3 linked regions of the Homo sapiens genome follow. The protein of the gene in region 1 interacts with the protein of each later gene in a biochemical or structural test. Each region holds a gene or a part of one and is shown on either strand. Other genes may lie near its edges.

Evidence for each region. The genes of interacting proteins can lie anywhere in the genome.
Region 2: of the proteins of MAP3K3 (region 1) and PPP2R5A, one has a biochemical effect on the other in vitro, tested with the Homo sapiens proteins (one study listed by IntAct).
Region 3: of the proteins of MAP3K3 (region 1) and GLI1, one has a biochemical effect on the other in vitro, tested with the Homo sapiens proteins (one study listed by BioGRID).

The regions. Positions count from the first base shown.
Region 1 is NC_000017.11:63,625,401-63,632,422, forward strand, and holds part of MAP3K3 (mitogen-activated protein kinase kinase kinase 3), read left to right. Parts: intron 1-7,022. UniProt on the Homo sapiens protein: Component of a protein kinase signal transduction cascade. Mediates activation of the NF-kappa-B, AP1 and DDIT3 transcriptional regulators.
Region 2 is NC_000001.11:212,344,410-212,351,431, forward strand, and holds part of PPP2R5A (serine/threonine-protein phosphatase 2A 56 kDa regulatory subunit alpha isoform), read left to right. Parts: intron 1-1,393; coding exon 1,394-1,524; intron 1,525-2,937; coding exon 2,938-2,997; intron 2,998-3,979; coding exon 3,980-4,088; intron 4,089-4,779; coding exon 4,780-4,833; intron 4,834-7,022. UniProt on the Homo sapiens protein: The B regulatory subunit might modulate substrate selectivity and catalytic activity, and might also direct the localization of the catalytic enzyme to a particular subcellular compartment.
Region 3 is NC_000012.12:57,454,836-57,462,806, forward strand, and holds the start of GLI1 (zinc finger protein GLI1), read left to right. Parts: upstream 1-4,949; 5' UTR 4,950-5,366; intron 5,367-5,441; exon of another isoform or gene 5,442-5,720; intron 5,721-7,907; exon of another isoform or gene 7,908-7,971. Other genes in the region: INHBE (inhibin beta E chain preproprotein), read left to right, coding at 702-999, 1,259-2,013. UniProt on the Homo sapiens protein: Acts as a transcriptional activator. Binds to the DNA consensus sequence 5'-GACCACCCA-3'. Regulates the transcription of specific genes during normal development.

The DNA of each region.
Region 1 (7,022 bases):
TTCATAATACCTGAGATTGTTTATGTGGTCTTTTTATAAACGCAGTCTGAAACTTTATATATCACTGAAAAATATGTAACAACTTGGAAATGCTACAGGAAACTATAGTGAATGGAGTACAGGATTACAGATGATCTGGTTCTGGTTTGAAGTCAGAATTATTGTGACTTACAGACACCTTGTCTAGGGTTCCAAGGCTGTTAGGAGCTCCCTGTTAGAATAGTCTCAATTCAGTTTGGCTAGAATCTGACCACCTATGTAGACTCTGAATAGTTAGCAGCTGTTTTGATTGAAATTTGAATCACAGTTTAATAAATCAACATGGCTATGTCATTACTAGATTTCTGATATTTTTAAAAATGACAGTTGGATTTTAAAACTGAATTTTAGGTTGGGCATGGTGGCTTACACCTATAATCCCAGCACTTTGGGAAGCTGAGACTGGTAGATCGCTTGAGCCCAGGAGTTCGAGAGCAGCCTGGGCAACATGGTGAAACCCTGTCTCTACTAAAAACACACAAACTTAGCTGGGCGTAGTGGCATGCCCCTATAGTCCCAGTTACCCAGGAGACCGAGGTGGGAAGATCATCTGAGCCTGGGAGGTTGAGGCTGCAGTGAACCATGATCGTGTCACTGCACTCCAGCCCAGGCAACAAGAGTGAGAGACCCTGTCTCTAAAACAAAAAACAAACAAAAAATAGCTGAATTTTAGGCATCTGTAAAAAGTAAGTATCTGTCCAACTGAGCATTACTTAGGGGAATACACAGAGGATAAGATGAGGTTTTTCTGGTTCTATGGAAGCTGTTAATTTATTCTTTGCCCATTTGTTGAATGCCTCCTATGTGCCAGGCATAGTATTAAGCCCTGTGCCTGTGTTATCCTGTCCTCAAGAAGTTACAGTTAGGTAAGGTGAAGCAGAAACATGTAAACAATTAAGTGCAAAAGTGTGTAAAGATATACAGGAGAGAGATCAATTCTGTCGTTTTGGTATTGACACATGTAATTCTATAGTCTCCAGTCCTTTGGGTTAATTTCACTAAACGTTAAAATGTAGTGGTGATATATATTGATTCTTATGAGGAATAAATGGCCTACTTTATAATATGTGTTTTAAGAATTTGAACCATCAATTAATATTGAATGCCTATTATATCTTAGAACAGAAAAACGCCAGCATTTGACTTTGAGATTTAGCAAAGGTTCAACCATTTCTTGAAGGATAAAAGTTTCTTATGAATTGAGGGTCTGGCCTTATTGCATATACTCATTGTAAAATGATGTTTGCCTGGGCATGGACAGGGTGGAGGCAGTGGAAGTATGTGGAATGTCATGAAGAGAAAGTAAAATCTGACTCAGGGACACTGAAGCACAGACTCTCCTGAGTGGGCAGTGCGATCAGACGATCTGGTGGAGCTGGGTAGAACATTGTCAAGATGAAGAAATAACATCATTAGTTAAATGAAACAAAACAAAGATTAAAACATTACTTTGGGGATTGTATCTATGGAAAAGAGAGAGAGTGTGTGGCATAGTAAACAGACACCATACGGGATAACAATGTTTATTAGAGAATGTGGTGCTTCTGGCAACTTTTCTGGGTTGTTAGCCAAGGGAACTCACAAATGGGAAGTGCCTTAAGACCCTGCTTTGAGATACAAGTAATAGCTCAGTCTGGAAGAGTGGCTTCCTGCTGGAGCTAAAGAGAGGAGTATGTTGCCTGGCAGCCTCCATACCACAGGTTGGGGTACCAGGAGAAGAAAAACTACATGCCACTGGGGAATTACTTAAAACTGCCTAAGAGCTTCTACTTTTTAAGCCTGAACTCTAATCCTTGTTTGATAGATCCTTTTCTAGTTCCATGAATACTCCTCCTTTTCCTAGATTCTTAACCTCTTAATCTCTAAAATTAACCTCTTTCTCCTTATGCTTCTTCCTGGTAGCTTCTAAGTGTGTCAGACCACTCCCACTCTCAGGAAATCTTTTCAAAGTTATAAGCACACTATTACGCTACCTCAACTTGTTCACGTGTAAAGTTCACAAATACTTTTTTTTTTTTTTTGGGGTGGAGTTTTGCCCTGTCACCTAGGCTTGAGTGCAGTGGCACGATCTCAGTTCACTGCAACCTCTGCCTCCCGGGTTCAAGCAATTCTCCTACCTCAGCCTCCCGAGTAGCTGGGATTACAGGCACCGGCCACCATGCCTGGCTAATTTTGTATTTTTAGTAGAGACAGGGTTTCACCATGTTGGCCAGGCTAGTCTTGAACTCCTGACTGCAGCTGATCCACCCTCCTCGGCCTCCCAAAGTGCTAGGATTACAGGCATGAGCCATCGTGCCTGGCCATGACTAATTTTTTGTATTTTTTGTAGAGATGGGGTTTTGCCATGTTGCCCAAGCTGGTCTCAAACTCCTGGGATCAAGTGATATGCCCGCCTTGGCTTCCCAGAATGTTGGACTTACAGGTGTGAGCCAATGCGCCCGGCCTGTCACTCTTATTTTCTTCAATCCTTTTTTTTTTTTTCTGAGACAGAGTCTCTACTCTGTCGCCCAGGCTGGAATGTGTTGGCATAGTCTTGGCTCACTGCAACCTCTGCCTCCCAGGTTCAAGCTATTCCCATGCCTCAGCCTCCACAGTAGTTGGGATTACAGGTGTGCACCACCACGCCCAGCTAATTTTTGTATTTTTAGTAGTGATGAGGTTTCACCATGTTGACCAGGCTGGTCTTGAACTCCTGACCTCAGGTGATCTGCCTGCCTCGGCCTCCCAAAGTGCTGAGATTACAGGTGTGAGCCACCACGCCCAGCCAGCTTGCTTTTCTTAAAGAATCTTTAGTCTGTTAACAATTATGTAAAATCATCCATATAACCTCTTATATAACCATATAAGCTACTCATATTTAAAAATATTTATTTTTATACATTTGTATTTATATACTCTGGTTTATATATTGTCTAATTCTGTCTTTTTTTTTTTTTTTGAGACGGAGTTTCGCTCTTGTTGCCCAGGCTGGAGTGCAATGGCACCATCTTGGCTCACCGCAACCTCCGCCTCCCAGCTTGAAGCAGTTCTCCTGCCTCAGCCTCCCGTGTAGATGGGATTACAGGCATGTGCCACCACGCCCAGCTAATTTTGTAGTTTTAGTAGAGACGGGGTTTCTCCATGTTGGTCAGGCTGTTCTCGAACCCCTAACCTCAGGTGATCCACCTGCCTTAGCCTCCCAAAGTGCTGGGATTACAGGCGTGAGCCCCTGGGCCCTGCCAATTCTATCTTTTTTTTCATACAACTTTGTATTTGTGTGTTGTTTATCTTTTTATCCCTAGAGTTTGAACACCTTGAAATATCTTTTAAAACTTTCTAATGTGTAATACAAGATAAGTATTCAGTAAATTGTTGTTAATGATTTATAAAAGTTCAGTAATAAAATTAAGTATTAGGGTAGATTAAATGGCCTCCAGTCTTTTTCCATTGACCTTTTCTCATTGATGATAATAATAGCCAGCATTTTTTTAGCATTACTGTGTTAGGTACCATAAGAAATAATTCGTAGGTTTTCTGTTGCTTTTAACTCCCACAGCAGCTTTGTGAAATGATGCTTTATCTCCATTTTACAGATGAGGAAATTGAGGTTTGGAGAGAATAAATGATTTGCTCAGGGCCTCCTTACCAAATTTTTCTGACTCTGAAGTTCATATTCCTAACTGCTTCAGTCTAAGAAAGTTGTTATTTGTTGTTTTTTTTTTTGAGATGGAGTCTCGCCCTGTCGCCATGCTGGAGTTCAGTAGCGCTATCTCAGCTCACACCAACCTCCGCCTCCTGTGTTCAGGCAATTCTCCTGCCTCAGCCTCCCAAGTAGCTGGGATTACAGGCGCACACCACCACGCGCAGTTAATTTTTTTGTATTTTTAGTAGAGACGGGGTTTCACCATGTTGGCCAGGCTGGTTTCGAACTCCTGACCTCAAGTGATCCACGCATCTTGGCCTCCCAAAGTGCTAGAATTACAGGCGTGAGCCTCTGCGCCCAGCCTGTTATTTGTTTTTAAAAGTTTTGTTTGTTTTTAAAGAATGCCACATTGGAGGAGTGCTGATAATTCAGTTAGTCTCAGTCCATACCACAGAGATAACTGGCTTGTGGCAGCCAAGTGTGCATAGTGATGTTGCTTTTTAGAAGGAAAAAAAACAAAAACAAAACCTCAATCCAGGAAGAAATGCCTAAAAGAGCCACTTGATTTACTTCCTGTCTTTATACATGTCCTCTGAAGTATCAGTTGAAGAACCTGTCTACCTCTAGGAATGTATTTTACTTTGACACAAAATTAGATTCTATAACCCTGATTCACTTGTGTCAGTTGTCCCAGATTTCAGATGACAGTGCCAAACTTTTCCACTAGTGTGTTCTCAGCTCTGGAACTACTAAACAAGTTTGTTCATTAAGTAATGCCAGGAATTGGTTAGCTTCCTGGAAACAGAATTTGTCAACCTGATAAACCAGCTCTTATAATAGCGTCATCTTATACAGAATTAGAAATGATTTCTTCAGTCATACTTGTGGATCTGACTTGAAAAGTGGTGTGTGTATGTGTGTGCCTGTATGTGTATTCACATCCATCTTTGTTCAATATCTGAGTTGAAAGAACTGAAAATTCTCAATACTTAGGGTGGTTAATGTTGTTACTGATAACTCCTTGCATTCCGCTTTTAGGAGTATTGTTGGATGCTCCTCAGAAAACACTTAAACCTAGTCATAATCCTCCTTGTATTGATCCCAATTTATTATTACAGTTGGCCCAATTTTATATATATTTAATAATATCTAAGCCATTTAATATATAAACCTATACATATTATATATAAGCCAATCTTCCTAGCTTAGATGTTATGCTCTAGTTTTTAAAGTTTGGTTGTGAGGATAAAAATCAAAACAAAAAACCAAGTTCCCTTTTTGTTTTTGGGACAGGGTCTCACTGTCGCCCAGGCTGAAGTACAGTGGCATGATCATGGCTCACTGCAGCCTCAACCTCCTGGGCTCAAGTGATCCTTCCACCTAAGCCTCTCAAGTAGCTGAGCCTACAGCGTGCACCACCATGCCCAGCTAATTTTTTGTATTTTTTGTAGAATGTAGTTTTGCCATGTTGCCCAGTCTGGTCTCGAACTCCTGGGCTCAAGCAATCCACCTGCCTCAGCCTCCCAAAGTGCTGGGATTACAGGCATGAGCCACCCTGTCCAGCCAGGTTCCCTTCTTTAAAGAAGCTATAGGGAAATTGTAGAAGGTATAAAATAATTGATGGGATATATATGTGTTAATTTGACAGATGTCTTTTTGTAGATACCCACTTTCTCCTCATTCATTATCCCCTTTACTGCATGCTTTCTATATTACAGCTATGTCACTCTCATACATACTTTTGTATATGTTTTGAAGTGGAATCATATGGGAAGTTATGCTCCTGGTGGTTTTCCTGCAAGTTTTAAATCTAATTTTACTTTCCTGAACAAGCAAAAACCTCTTTATAGGCAACTTTGTCCTTTTCTGTACCTCGTCAGAGGGCATATAGGGCACCAGAGCAGATTTCGTCTAGGAAGAGGGGAGAGGCAAATAAGGTGAGGGGCCAGGCACGGTGGCTTATGTCTGTAATCCCAGCATTTTGGGAGGCTAAGGAGGGAGGATCGCTTGAGCTCAGGTGTTTGAAATCAGCCTGGGCAACATGGTGAAACCCTCGCTCAATAAAAAATACAAAAATTAGCAGGGCATGGTGGTGTGCACCTGTAGTCCCAGCTACTCTGGAGGCTGAGGTGGAGGATTGTTTGAGCCTGGGGGTGGAGGAGGCTGCAGTGAGCTGTGATTGCACCACTGCACTCTAGCCTGGGCAACAGAGTGAAACCCTGTTTCAGTCAGTCAGTCAATCAGTTAATCAGTAGTGGGAGAAGAGACTTGAGCAGTTTTACTTCCTACATTTCATGCTGTTCGTTTCTTTCCACAGGGTATTAGAATATTTCCAAGGGACAGTGATAAAGGGTAGAAGATAGGCACTCTCTTTGGGTGGAATCTTTTGTATTTGCTTCTTTTAAGGTGTGCCCCAAGTCCCCAAATGGCTCAGTTGTCACCAAAGCAAGTGTAACAACTCATCCCTCATGTTCCCTTCACGATCAACAGATTTATTCATTTTCAATCTCCAAATGCTATTTGAATGGGCAAAGATCTCTTAAAGGACCTGGGAAAAATTTGTACAACATGGAATTGGACTGGTTTGTGTTCTGGGTTTTGGCCAGTTGTTTTCAATGTATGAGAACTCTAGTACTCCATGCTATTTCAAGAAAAGGGGATTAAAAGTAATGCCAGTAAGGTGGAGACAATGCATTGCTTGGTCAGCTTAGGGAGGAAAAACAATAGAACTACCCTTTGACTTCCCCATGGGAAGTAGTAGGCCTATAAACTTGTAAAGAGTTGTGGGGGTTGCTGGTGGTGGCGGCATTCAAATGCTAGGCTTGTAAAACAACTTCTGTTCAAAGCAGTTACCTGAGGCCCTTATTTGGTACCTTTTAAAGTGTGCTCTCCTCCTTATGATGCTTTAAGAATAAGTCTGGGACTGACACTGTGCCATAATCCTCTCTCTATGGATTCATCTTTTCATTCAGTACCATATTACATTGTACTGTGTTCTTCACTTCAATTTTTCATCTATTTTTCCTGGTTAAGTTTCTCTGGCACTGGACCAACTGCCCTGTTTGAGCGTGTCCCTTCCCTGCAATGAATTGGTAAATATTGCTGCAGGAAATCTGATTGGAGGGCTATTAAGAAACCATTAAAGGCCAGGCATGGTGGCCCACACCTGTATGTAATCTTAGCACTTTGGGAGGCCGAGGCAGGAGGATCACTGGAGTCCAGGAGTTGGAGACCAGCCTGGGCAACATGGGGAGACCCCGTCTCTACAAAAAATAAAAAAATCATCCAGGCATGGTGGTGCATGCCTGTGTTCCCAGCTACTCAGGAGGCTGATGTGGGAAGGTCACTTGAGCCCCAGAGT
Region 2 (7,022 bases), on another chromosome or scaffold:
ATGGCAGTTGTTTTGGGAGATATAAATATGATTTAAGTCATCCACTCTGGTTTCAGATGCATGTGTTAGCAATTGTATATAATTCAAAACAAAATGGAATAAGAACTTCTGATGAGGTTCAGAGCTTGCTATCTTTATTGTAATTATAAACACGAAAGTTCAGAACATAAAATTCCTTGACAGCTTTACAGATACTTGTACTCTAGAGAGAGTATTTTATATTTTTCTAAGAAAATCCAATGTTTAAAATACAGTGTTTTTTTTGACAGAAGAAATTAAGTTTCTTTACCATTTTAAATGGAAATTTGAGATTTTGACTTTAACTTTTTCTAAAGTCTCTTCTCTCAGGTTTTGCTGAAAAGTTGTGCAGAATATAGGAGTACACTGATTGGGCCAATTGAGGTATAGGAGAGTGCTGACTGTGGAACTGGTTTAAAATTTTTCAGCTATTTGCTAAGCTGAAAAATCTATGGGCTGGGCATAGTGGCTCACGCCTATAATCCTGGCACTTTGGGACACCGAGGAGGGTGGATCGCTTGAACTCAGGAGTTTGAGACCAGCCTGGGCAACATGGTGAAACCCCGTCTCTACCAAAAAATATATAAATTAGCTGGGTGTGGTGGCATGTGCCTGTAGTCCCAGCTAGTTGGGAGGCTGAGGCAGGAGGATCTTCTGACCCCAGGAGGTCGAGGCTGCAGTGAGTTGTGATTGCATCACTACCCTCCAGTCTAGGCTACAGAGCAAGACTGTCTTAAAAAAAAAAAAAAAAAAATTTGGCCTCATCTTTTAGTCCAGTGTTATTTTATATATGATTTCTACTCTATTAGTATGTATCTGCCAATATTTTATTCTAATAACTGAATGTTAATTTTTCAAATGTCTGCATGGTAACTGTCTTGAATTTATTGTAAATTCACAAAAAGAAGTCTTAGTATATGTACATCTTTCTAGTAAACTAGAAATATACATTTACACATGGATCTTTTTAAGACTATTTGATGACTTGCAATCTAAAAACTTAAACGATTTTCTATGTAGTTTTGACGATCAAAAAGCATTAAAAATCCCAAATTTTAACACTCCAAAATTGTGAGCCTCTTTAGTATTCAAGAGTAGGATTGAATTTTAAAATCAGTGGGAAGGTAAAGAAAAATCCACTTTTTGAAATATTTATATTTATTGTAAATGTCATATTTTGAAGTGAAATAAGTGAGAAGAAATATTTCCTAAGCTTTTCCTCACCTTCATTACTTAGCAAGAATAAAGTCAGTGTGGTAAGGAAGAACTCTAAAAAATTTTTAAAAGATGTCATGGATAATCTTTAAGATCAAAATTAGAATAAAGCTTTAGCTCGATTATTTTTTAAAAGTAATTTCTCAGGTTTCTTTTAAAGCTCCTGGAGCTTTTTGATAGTGAAGATCCCAGAGAACGTGACTTCCTGAAGACTGTTCTGCACCGAATTTATGGGAAATTTCTTGGATTAAGAGCATTCATCAGAAAACAAATTAACAACATTTTCCTCAGGTAAATTAATCATTTATTGTATATTGCACCTTTTCCTCCTACATATCTTCTTGTATTCAAGTTCTTTTATTTTTATTTGTTTTTTTGAGACAGGGTCTCACTCTGTCATCCAGGCTGGAGTGCAGTGGTGAGAACATAGCTCATTGTAGCCCCCATCTCCCAGACTCAAGCAATCTTCCTCTCTCAGCCTGCCAAGTAGTGAGACTACAGGTGTGCACCACCACGCCTGGGTAATTTTTTTGACTTTTAGTAGAGACAAGGTCTATGTACTGTATGTACGTAGTATATATATGTAACATATATATGTAACATAGTATATATGTGTAACATATATATGTAACGTAGTATATATGTAACATACTATGTATGTTGCCCAGGCTGGTCTTGAACTCCTGAACTCAAGCAGTCCTCTTATATGGGGCCTATCATTTGCTTGTAGTCATCCCTCAGTATCTGGGGAGGATTGATTCCAGGGCCCCTGCTAATAGCAGAATCCAAAGTCCCTTATATAAAATGGCACAGTATTTGCATATAACGTCCACACATCCTCCTGTATACTTTATTTCTAGATTACTTACAATACTTAATACAGTGTGAATGCTGTGCAAATAGATGTTATTCTATATTTTAAATTTGTATTTATTTTTCAAAAATATTTTTGATCTGTAGTTGGTTGAATGCACAGATAATGAAACCTGCGGATACAGGGCCAAGTGTACTTTATAAATATTAATCTGTTAAGTAGTTGCTTCAGATCAGGAGATTTCATAACAACACCCACATTCAAGGTTTGGTTTGTTTAATTAATTGAAGATCTGGCAAAATTTGGTTACTATTCCCACATTGCAACAATTAGAGATGAGTAATATCTGCCTCCTCTAGAGTGAATATCTTTCTCCAGTTCTCTGTCATCACTTCCTAAGCCCATTTCAAATATCTGCCCTATTATATTTATGTCTCCCTGCTTTAAAGGCAGCCCTAATCTTGGAAAGCTATGCAGCCTATATAGTTAGAGGTGTAAAGAAATTCTGATTAAAAATGGCTTTATTACATATGGGTCTTTTTCTCTTGGATTTCCCTATAATTAGAGGTTTCTTATTTTAAAAAGTATTTCTTTGAGGAAACTTATCTTTCTTATTAATTATTAAGTTGAATATTCCAGGTGAAATGACAATCTGTTATCTTCACATATGGCGAGTTTTGGCAAAGGCATATGTAGTTCAGTAGGAAACATCTTCTTTTTTAAGATTGATATGAATTAACTGTTTGGGGCAAAACTGCTTATAAGACCCAAAACATGCTTGTGTGTTTCTAATAGCTGTCCTTTGGATTGATTTCTTCACCCTCCTGCCTGTTTCTCTTAGTTTTCTGAAGTTTGATTTTGATTACATCTTGTCTTTATTTTAAATTCAGGTTTATATATGAAACAGAACATTTCAATGGTGTTGCTGAACTTCTTGAAATATTAGGAAGGTAGGTCAGGTTTTTTTGTTCTTTTTAAGAATTAAGTAAGTGAATGTTTTATGTATTAAAATCTTAGCTGGGGTTGGAGAAATTATGTCATATTTTAGAGTTTAAATGTAGAACACATAGTTTCTCAACTGAAGTCTTTTTTTTTTTTTTGAGACGGAGTTTCGCTCTTGTTGCCCAGGCTGGAGTGCAATGGCGCGTTCTCGGCTCACTGCAACCTCTGCCTCCCGGGTTCAAGAGATTCCCCAGCCTCAGCCTCCTGAGTAGCTGGGATTACAGGTGCCTGCCACCACACCCAACGAATTTTTTAATTTTTATTTTTAGTAGCGATGGGGTTTCACCGTGTTGGCCAGGCTGGTCTTGAACTCCTGACCTCAGGCAATCCACCCCCTTCGGCCTCCCACAGTGCTGGGATTACAGGCGTGAGCCACCATGCCCAGCCTCAGCTGAATTCTTATTACCTTTTGCCATAACACTTTGCCTTCCTTATTCACTACGTATTAGTATTAAGAGAATTTTAGACCCTTCTGTTACTATTTAGACAATGATTTTAGTTTCCTTTATTAATAGTAGAAAATGATTGTGGAGAGAACTACTTCTTTCACGTTATCCAACAAAGTAAGAAAAATTACCCATTTACTTCAGAAAAATATTGAACATTCTAACAATATTGTGGTACTGACTCTCCTGGAGCTTTGGGGGCAAAAATAAAAGCAACAATGCATAAAGTGACAGGTTTGATAGAAAATGAAGATAGAAATTACTTGGGAATTAATTGACAGTCCTAATTTTCTTTTGGAATCATCAAATGACTTAGAGGAACAGACTTCATAGTAATAGTCTTCCTAAAGTAGTTTGAAGATGAGCAGTCATACAACACCAGGATTGAAGCATAGCACTGTTCCTTATGTACTCATGGATATGACAGCTTTTAGAAACAAAGTAGTAACTACTTAACCCTTCCCCTGCCTTTTTTTCCCTCCAGTATTATCAATGGCTTTGCATTGCCACTGAAAGCAGAACATAAACAATTTCTAATGAAGGTTCTTATTCCTATGCATACTGCAAAAGGATTAGCTTTGTTTCATGCTCAGGTAAGTTTCAGAAACATTTCAGATGAAATGAATATTATTTCAAAGGCCAATATAAAGGCAGAGAAATTGAGAAATACTGAGATGACAGTTTTAAGTATAATTAAGCAATTTGCTTACAAAATTACCCAAAGCAAATTTTTCTTATTTTAAAGTATTTAGTTGTTAAGTAAGACCAATTATTTAATTTCTATATCTACACTTACAGTTTAAGATACACACTTTCCTCATATTATAGTCCAGGTCTTGACCTAATTATGTGACTTTGAATAAATCCCACATATCTACAGAATGTTTCTTCCAGCTGCAATAACCTAGACCTAGTTAGAGAGATTTTGGTCTCTTCTATTAATATTTAGAGAATAATATATCAGCATAGGTGTACATGTAGAAACATGCTGAAAAACTAAATTGTTAGCTCTAGTCTTATTTCAGTTAACTTTATAGTCAGAAATTACTACTAAAAATGTTTTTTAAACTTGAAGTTACTTTCAAGGCTAAAAAGTTACACAATTGTGAGTATAGTTTCACGATTGAGGTATTTCACAATTTCATTCACAGTTGTGAGTATATTTTTATATATTGGAATAATTTATCAAAATGAGGTAGTCTAAAAAATATTGGCTAAATATAAAAATCCTACATTATTAAATGTTATCTCACTAATATTTATAAACTGTCCCTTACCTTTTAGCTAGCATATTGTGTTGTACAGTTCCTGGAGAAAGATACAACACTAACAGAGCCAGTAAGTGTTCTATTTATTTTCATGTTTTTGGTCTGCATTAATAGCATTTCATTGTAGCTTTCGTTTTATAGCCTTTATAGTTATTAAGTAGAATAATGTACGTTAAGCTAAAATCATTTAGAAGAAGAAATGTGAGATTAATCTACATTAAAAGAAGGGGTTAGGAGGGGAGAGTTCTCGTGAGTTATGTCTTGAATAACCGAAATATAGACTACTATTAATATGTAGTAGTTAAGATGTACGATGATAGGATCAGATGACCACAGTGAAATTTTATATGCATACTGTCTTCACCAATAATCTTTTAAATCTTCATTCACCTTTTGGAATTAAAGCATACTTCGAGGGTCCCAAAACTACTACTCCCTTGAATTTTGTTTTGTTTTTAATAATAGAATTTTTGCCACTCATTAACAATAAACCACTTGATAGGGATAGAAAACATTTCCTTGCTTTTGGTGATTAAGATATAAGATGTAATCTTGGAATAAAAGTAGTTTATGAACCAGCAAGGCAACTTAGGCTTTGAATTCTACTGTTATTTGCCTCTAGAATGAAAATTCAGGAGAGAGTGAAAACATAATTAGTTATGAAAATTTACTGAGGATTCAAGAAAAACAAAAGATGAAGTAGGGTGAAACAGAAAAGTATAAAAGCATAGAAAACATTTTAACCTTGGTGAAGTAAGTATTTTGAGAGAATGCTTTCTAGGCATGTTCAGTCTAAATATTTACCTAGTATTAGGTTGGTACAAAAGTGATTGCGGCTTTTGCCATTACTTTTAATGGCAAAAACCACAATCACTTTAGCAGCAACCTAATAAATATTTAGTAAATAGCAAAGGGTTTGAAAAACTAAAATATATATGTATTTTTACTATATTATGAACCTTCTCAGGCTATCCGTAGGGATGCTTGAAAAAATCATATACTTAGTATTCTCCCTTTCACTTGAACTTTGTGTAATGGAACAAAAGACATTTTTCCACTCCTTAATTTTTATTAGTTTTTTGACTTTTAGATTTACAGTCTTTTCTAGAAACAGCTGTAAACAGTTTTTGAAGACAATTCAGGAGAATTAGAAACCATATATTTGTACATGAAACCACATAAACCTCTGAAGTTGATTCCCAGGTGTGCAGTGGCTCACAACTGTAATCCCAGCACTTTGGGAGGCTGAGGCAGGCAGATAACTTGAGGCCAGGAGTTTGAGACCAGCCTGGCCAACATGGTGAAACCCTGTCTCTAGTTAAAATACAAAAATTAGCTGGGCATGGTGGCACAGGCCTGTGGTCCCAGCTACTCAGATGGCAAGGGCACAAGAATTGCTTGAATCCAGGAGGCGTAGGTTGCAGTGATCTGAGCTCATACCAGTGCACTCCAGCCTGGGCAACAGAGTGAGACTCTGTCTTCAAAAAAAAAAAGAAAAAAGTAAAACCTTAATACAAATCTATGATAACTCCCATTAGAATTAAGAAAAAGAAAACCCATAATAACACATATTGAAAAGTCATGGTTCATGCTTGGTAAATAGTATACAAATAAAATTTTATTTAATTAATTTGGGGTGGATAAGGAAGACAGGTGATTTATTTTTAAAGAATGGAAGATAGAGGCTGGGCATGGTGGTTCATGCCTGTAATCCCAGCACTTTGGGAGGCCGAGGCAGGCGGATCACCTCAGGTCAGGAGTTCAAGATCAGCCTGATCAACATGGTGAAACCCCATTTCTACTTAAAAAAAAAAAAAAAAAATTAGCTGGGCATGGTGGCGTGTGCCTGTAATCTCAGCTACTAGGGAGGCCGAGGCACAAGAATCACTTGAACCCTGGAGGCGGAGGTTACAGTGAGCCGAGATGACACAAAAAAAAAAACAAAAAAACAAAAAACCTTGACGATTAGGGAGAGGGATGATGGCCAGTTATTCAGCTTTTATCTGGTTTGGCTGAGTTGGGTTAATGAAAATAGGAGCAGGATGAGGAGAGAGAGTAAGATAAATACCCAGGTTAAGAAAGGAAAATATTTTCCAACTCATAAAGATCTCTCGATATAGAGATCTTGCAATTTCTAACATAGGCCATTCCAGCACCAAAATTACGGCCATATTACTTGGGTTTAAGCCTTAATACTAATTTTCTGGAAAGCAGGCATTCCTATCAAAGCTTTCTACAAATTATAAGTAGCTCAGAGCT
Region 3 (7,971 bases), on another chromosome or scaffold:
TCATCCCTGTCCTAGCCCCAGTGCTAGAAATAAAGAGACCAGAATTTTCCTTCTGGCCTAAGGGCCCCAGAGGAATACCCACTGGAACTCACAGCTGCCTCATGGAAACTGCTGCAGCAGTGGTGAAGCTAGAAAGACTAGAGGTATGAGGGAAAATTGCCCTTCCCCACCTGGCTCATAAGGCGTTCCCTCCCCCAAGTCCCAGACCTTGGGGACTGAGCATGTGAAATCATCCTCTTTCTTGCATCATGCGTGTCCACATTGCACCCCCCCACCCCCATACCCCTACTTCAGGCCCAGTCACCATGGCCAGATGGTGAAACCTGAGCTGATGGGGAGGAGGACCTCCACCCCCTGCAGGGGCCTGATGGGCAGCACAGCTGGCCAATCCTGGGACTCAGAGGGTAGGTCGGCTGGCTGACCACTAGGTTTGGAAGACCCAGGCAGCTGGCTCTAAAGAGGCCCCAGGTCAGTAGCCAGACATGAGCTGTGAGGGTCAAGCACAGCTATCCATCAGATGATCTACTTTCAGCCTTCCTGAGTCCCAGACAATAGAAGACAGGTGGCTGTACCCTTGGCCAAGGGTAGGTGTGGCAGTGGTGTCTGCTGTCACTGTGCCCTCATTGGCCCCCAGCAATCAGACTCAACAGACGGAGCAACTGCCATCCGAGGCTCCTGAACCAGGGCCATTCACCAGGAGCATGCGGCTCCCTGATGTCCAGCTCTGGCTGGTGCTGCTGTGGGCACTGGTGCGAGCACAGGGGACAGGGTCTGTGTGTCCCTCCTGTGGGGGCTCCAAACTGGCACCCCAAGCAGAACGAGCTCTGGTGCTGGAGCTAGCCAAGCAGCAAATCCTGGATGGGTTGCACCTGACCAGTCGTCCCAGAATAACTCATCCTCCACCCCAGGCAGCGCTGACCAGAGCCCTCCGGAGACTACAGCCAGGGAGTGTGGCTCCAGGGAATGGGGAGGAGGTCATCAGCTTTGCTACTGTCACAGGTGGGTGAGGGAGAGAGCAACAGGCAAAGAGCAGACAGGGAAAGGGAGGCAGAAGGGGAGCCTGGCAGGAGCAGCAGAGGGAGTGGGGTGTGGCAGGAGAAGGAGGAGCTGGGGCAGGGACTGGTTGCAGAGGACACAAAGCAGTCTCTACTTTTCTAGAGGTAGGTTCGAGGGAGAGCAGTGGGCAGGGCTTGGGGAGTCTCAGAGGAGAGCTTCATCTCTACTCACATTTTCTTTCCCTTTTCTGTCTTTCGGGCAGACTCCACTTCAGCCTACAGCTCCCTGCTCACTTTTCACCTGTCCACTCCTCGGTCCCACCACCTGTACCATGCCCGCCTGTGGCTGCACGTGCTCCCCACCCTTCCTGGCACTCTTTGCTTGAGGATCTTCCGATGGGGACCAAGGAGGAGGCGCCAAGGGTCCCGCACTCTCCTGGCTGAGCACCACATCACCAACCTGGGCTGGCATACCTTAACTCTGCCCTCTAGTGGCTTGAGGGGTGAGAAGTCTGGTGTCCTGAAACTGCAACTAGACTGCAGACCCCTAGAAGGCAACAGCACAGTTACTGGACAACCGAGGCGGCTCTTGGACACAGCAGGACACCAGCAGCCCTTCCTAGAGCTTAAGATCCGAGCCAATGAGCCTGGAGCAGGCCGGGCCAGGAGGAGGACCCCCACCTGTGAGCCTGCGACCCCCTTATGTTGCAGGCGAGACCATTACGTAGACTTCCAGGAACTGGGATGGCGGGACTGGATACTGCAGCCCGAGGGGTACCAGCTGAATTACTGCAGTGGGCAGTGCCCTCCCCACCTGGCTGGCAGCCCAGGCATTGCTGCCTCTTTCCATTCTGCCGTCTTCAGCCTCCTCAAAGCCAACAATCCTTGGCCTGCCAGTACCTCCTGTTGTGTCCCTACTGCCCGAAGGCCCCTCTCTCTCCTCTACCTGGATCATAATGGCAATGTGGTCAAGACGGATGTGCCAGATATGGTGGTGGAGGCCTGTGGCTGCAGCTAGCAAGAGGACCTGGGGCTTTGGAGTGAAGAGACCAAGATGAAGTTTCCCAGGCACAGGGCATCTGTGACTGGAGGCATCAGATTCCTGATCCACACCCCAACCCAACAACCACCTGGCAATATGACTCACTTGACCCCTATGGGACCCAAATGGGCACTTTCTTGTCTGAGACTCTGGCTTATTCCAGGTTGGCTGATGTGTTGGGAGATGGGTAAAGCGTTTCTTCTAAAGGGGTCTACCCAGAAAGCATGATTTCCTGCCCTAAGTCCTGTGAGAAGATGTCAGGGACTAGGGAGGGAGGGAGGGAAGGCAGAGAAAAATTACTTAGCCTCTCCCAAGATGAGAAAGTCCTCAAGTGAGGGGAGGAGGAAGCAGATAGATGGTCCAGCAGGCTTGAAGCAGGGTAAGCAGGCTGGCCCAGGGTAAGGGCTGTTGAGGTACCTTAAGGGAAGGTCAAGAGGGAGATGGGCAAGGCGCTGAGGGAGGATGCTTAGGGGACCCCCAGAAACAGGAGTCAGGAAAATGAGGCACTAAGCCTAAGAAGTTCCCTGGTTTTTCCCAGGGGACAGGACCCACTGGGAGACAAGCATTTATACTTTCTTTCTTCTTTTTTATTTTTTTGAGATCGAGTCTCGCTCTGTCACCAGGCTGGAGTGCAGTGACACGATCTTGGCTCACTGCAACCTCCGTCTCCTGGGTTCAAGTGATTCTTCTGCCTCAGCCTCCCGAGCAGCTGGGATTACAGGCGCCCACTAATTTTTGTATTCTTAGTAGAAACGAGGTTTCAACATGTTGGCCAGGATGGTCTCAATCTCTTGACCTCTTGATCCACCCGACTTGGCCTCCCGAAGTGATGAGATTATAGGCGTGAGCCACCGCGCCTGGCTTATACTTTCTTAATAAAAAGGAGAAAGAAAATCAACAAATGTGAGTCATAAAGAAGGGTTAGGGTGATGGTCCAGAGCAACAGTTCTTCAAGTGTACTCTGTAGGCTTCTGGGAGGTCCCTTTTCAGGGGTGTCCACAAAGTCAAAGCTATTTTCATAATAATACTAACATGTTATTTGCCTTTTGAATTCTCATTATCTTAAAATTGTATTGTGGAGTTTTCCAGAGGCCGTGTGACATGTGATTACATCATCTTTCTGACATCATTGTTAATGGAATGTGTGCTTGTATGGTCTTGTGTTACAGTCTTTTTCAGTTTTAATTTCTAATGTGGTGAATTGATAGATGTAAATCATATGAACAAAAGCTCAATGATTTTTTTTTTTTTGAGACGGAGTCTCGCTCTGTCGCCCAGGCTGGAGTGCAGTGGCACAATCTCGGCTCACTGCAACCTCCACCTCCCAGGTTCAAGCGATTCTCCTGCCTCAGCCTCCTGAGTAGCTGGGACTACAGGCCTGCGCCACCATGCCCAGCTATTTTTTGTATTTTTAGTAGAGATGGGGTTTCACCATGTTGGCCAGGCTGGTCTCGGACTCCTGACTTGAGGTGATCCGCCTGCCTTGGCCTCCCAAAGTGCTGGGATTACAGGTCTGAGCCACTGTGCCTAACCTAATGACTTTTAAGAGTATAGAGGAAACCAAAAAGTTTGAGACTCACTGGTCTATAGAACTGGGTGGGGAGAAGAAAGTAAGGTGTTCTAAGAGAGCTCTTCTTGCTGGGCACCGGTGGTCCCAGCTACTTAGGAGGCTAAGGCCGGAAGACCGCTTAAACCCAGGAGTTCGAGGCTATGATCACACTTGTGAATAGCCTCTGCACTCCAGCCTGGGCAAATAGTGAGGCCCCGTCCCAAATAAAAATAAATAAATACATAAATACATAAATAGCTCCTCTGGAAGAAGGGGCTCGAGGCTGGGACAGGAGCATGTGTGGGGTGCCTTTTTTTCAGTGCCCATTAGTCTGGTCTGACTGAGCTGGGTCTCTGACCCTCTGGGGATAACTAGCCTGGGTCAAAGTCCCAGATCTCCCCCTACCTTCACCTTTTCTTTTCCCCCTTGACCCTCAGACTGAACAGTTAACCCACTGACCTTCCACACCCAAGGGGGTGGTTCTTGGAAGCAGAGCTAGGATGTGGGAGGTCTGCCTGTGGGGTTGAAAAAAAGGGGAGAGGGTGCCCTTTTTCCTTGTCATGCTTCCTCCTCTTTCTCATAAAAATCAGAGACTGAAATGCTGCCCCTCCCTTATATCCGGTCACGATGGCAATGCAAATCTAAAGAGGCAGGGCACTTCCCTGTCAGGCAGTACCGCTGGGCATAGCAACCTCTGCCTCTCCGTTTCTCAGAGCTCACATATCCACCTCCTGGGCTTTTAAGTGGGCTTTAGTGAGGGGCTCCTCCTTCAACTGGGCTCCTCCTTCAGTTCCCCAGCTCTTCTGCTTCGACTCCGAGCGGGTGTCATGTGTGAGAACGGCCAGCAGAGGGAGCAGAAAGCCTGGAAGAGCAGCTAGAGCCTGCAGTGACGTGGTGCGGAGGGGCGGCACCCTCCAGAACTTCGAGACGTAGAGCCGGGGTTCTAGGGAAAGGGGCTTCAGTCCCAGGGCTCCTTGGTGACCTCGTGAACCACACCCTGCACCCAGAGCCTCAGCCGCTGCTCCTTGCTTTTATGCTCCATAGACTCCTCACCTTCTTCCAGAGCCCCCAACCCAACTTGATTTGCCCCAAACCGCAACTCTGTCCCGGCCGCTGCAAGTTCCATCCAAAGGGTGAGGCCTGCAGATAAACCACAGGATGGCAGAATGCTCAGTTAGCACCAACCAAAGGCGACTACCCTACCTCCACTATTATCGTTCTCGGTTGAACTTCTCCCCCTGCCCCGCAATATTTTCCTCAATCTGGTTGTCGGGGCCTCTTTGGGGCCAGCCGATCCAGAAATCCAAGCCGGGATTTAGTACTCACCAACAGCAGCGTGTTCAGCCGGGGCGGGGGGGGGGGCGTAAGCAGTATAGGGTCCCTCAAGGGAGGGGGAGGATCCTGGGGGTCCTGGGGGTGCAATAAGCCCGGCACCCCTTCTCTTGCTTCCAGCTACCCCGCCTCATCCTCCAGAACGGCAAGAGGGAGGGAAATAGAAGGGAGGTGAGGGGCGAGCGGGAAGAGCGGCGGCGCGCCAGCGGCTGGAGAGAGAAAAAGTTTTTGCAAAAGGGAAAAAAAAAGTTTGCGCTTCTCGCGGGTGGTCCGGGCTTGCGGCCCGGCGGGCTGGGCCGGCGGGAGGGCTGGGGGCCAGGTTGGGGGGGTGGGGGTGGCATCGAGGCTGCGCTGCCGTGGCCCTCTCCGCCCCCCCTCCCCACCGCACACCCCCCAGCCCAGACTCCAGCCCTGGACCGCGCATCCCGAGCCCAGCGCCCAGACAGAGGTGAGAAGGGGGGGCAGGCGGGGGACCACCTGGGAGCAGTGGGGGAGGGGGCCTGAGGGGATGCTCAGCTTCTTAGGGACTCATCCCAGACCCGGGACATAGAGGCAAAATAGGGGTGGGAGAGCCTGGGGTGAGACATTAGAAACTCCAGATTTTTCACTTGTGTCTTTCTCTGTATCTTCTTTTTCTTCCCTTTTTTTCTTCTGTCAGTCTGTGTATCTCTGTCTCAGGGAACCGTGGGTCTTTGTCTCCGCCTCTCCCATATATTAGAAATATCTTACTTTCATGCGGTTAAGTTTAAGAGGCTGGAGGGATGGCTAGCTGGAGGTCTGCGTTGTAGAGAGGTAACCCCAGGTGTGTGTCTGCGCGTGGGGTAGGAAGATGTCAGTGTTTCTGAAAGGTGGGGACTGCAAAGGAGGGAGCTCCAGGTGGGGTGGGGACGGGTGTGTGGGAGGCAACAGAGCCACTAGGGGCCAGCCAGGCTTGAACCTTTGACCTGTCTTGTGACAGATGTGCCAGTGGATGCTTGTGCTTTAGGGGAAAGGAGTGTCTTCTGGACTTGGAAGGGGGCTGGGGCGGGGGGGGGCTGTCCAAGGTCTAGTGAAGGCCCTAGAATGACCCCATGCAATTTGGACTCCTGAGTCCCAAGGGCTGTGGGCAAGGAGCTCAGGAGGAGCCGGGGAGACCTTGTCTTGACCCTCTGACCTCAGGACCACCGGGGCAGCGGGAGCCAGCCGCAGGGAGACCCCTACCGGGGCTGGGCGGGACCACTGGCCACTGCCAGCCTGTGTATCCCCGTTGGCACCCCGCCCAAACGGGAGCTGGGGATCGAGGCCCCTCCTCTGGCTCAGACCACCCTGCCTGCCCTTGCTCCCCGCTCTGAATCCTCTTTCAGGTCCCATGACCCCGAAACAATCAGCACTGGGCAGCTAGCTTTCGGGACAGGATTACGGAAAGGGGACCCCGTAGAGCCTGGGGACTGAGGGTTTTAGGGGTCTGGAGAGCTGGGGTCTTCTAGGATAGGTCTTTACGTTCCAGTAGAGGGAGAAGGCGGGCGGTTTCCCGGGGGATATGTAAGGGTCGGAATAAGTGTGGTTTTCCCTAGGGGGCGGGGTCCAGAGACCTCTCCCCCTCCACCATTATCTCCCTGGCATCCCCGCCCTTGACGTCACCAGGGGGTTCCCGGGGGTCTGGAGGGGTTAACCCTTGGGAAGCCGGCTGCTATAACCAGCAACCTAAGGTGTCCGGGCCCCTCCTCCTCCCCATACACACCTAATTTTATTGACCCAGTCACTTTCTCTGCTTTCTCTCCCCTATACTTTCTGGATTCTTCTCCCTTTCTAACCCCACCAACGGGGACCCCCACTCTCCAGTAGTGCCCCCCTGGGCGCCACTGCCTGCTTTCCGGATGTGCTGAGAGGAGGAGGGAAGAATGTGGCCCGCCCCTCAGCCCCCACCCCTATGGCTCGCTCTACTGGGCTCCCGGGGCGGGTGGGGGGAGCGGAGCCGTCTGCAGCCAGTGCCTGCGGCGGCGACTTGGGTGGGCCGAGGAGGCACGGGGGCGGGGAAGGCGGGACCGGGAGTAGGGGGGCGGAGCCGACTCCTGGGAGTTGGGGAGCGGGGGTGCGAGGGGGACGCTGGAAAACAGGGAGACACCGAAGATGGTTTAGGGCTCCGGCAGGGGAACCCTAGAGCTCCCTGTCCCATCCCGAACTCTCACACCCCAGAAAAACTTTACCGAAGCTAAAAAAGTTGGCGACATTTTCCTTTTACTAGCCTGAAGGGGAGATATGGGTGGGCTGTGGAACGCGTGGGCGAGGAGGGGTGTAGCCCCATTTCCTTGGAGGCTCTTCGGCAGCTAGGCAGTGGGGCAGAAAGATGACTGAGTAGGCAAGTTTGGGGGAGTCTCTAGTGTTTGGGGGATCATTTGCAAACTTCCCTCCTTCCCCTGGGTGAGTCATAGAGGGAAGGAGGCGGGAGAATTGTCCCCCCATCCAGCTGCCAACCAGCTGTGCCCCCCGCCCCCCAACATTAGTTCCAAGGTCGAGTTGGGAGGTCTTGGATGCGGGATCCGCACCTCGGTTGGAAAAGGAGGAGTTAGAAAAGGGTACAGCCCAGGCTGCCGGGCCGGGCTGGGTCGCGGGGTCCGGGTTCCGCTCCCCATCTCACCCCGCCCTCACCCTAAATCCCAGCATCCCGGGATCACCCACCGCGCCGGCCGGCCCGGCCCGCTCCCGGTGGTTCTCCACCCCATCCCGCCCCACCCCACCCTCATTCCCGGGAGACTGGAAAACCCGGGATGGAGTCAAAACTGGAGTTTGAAAAGAAAAACGGACAGCAGCACCTTCTTCCTCGCTACGCTTTTATAAGGATCACATTGTTTTTTTCATTCTCTCAGAGTCTCCCCTCATACTTCCTTTCCTGTTCCCCCAAAACAGAGACCAAAAAGATTAGGTGGGCCTGATTTAAACTACCCCAGAATAACACCAGCTTTCACCTTTGTGCCCAACAGACCCAGAAGACTCCCCTCAGGAACCTTACCTCCTCCTCCACACTGTTTTCTGTCTAAGAGGGCAGATGGCTTGTGCTCCCTCCTGGCCCCACC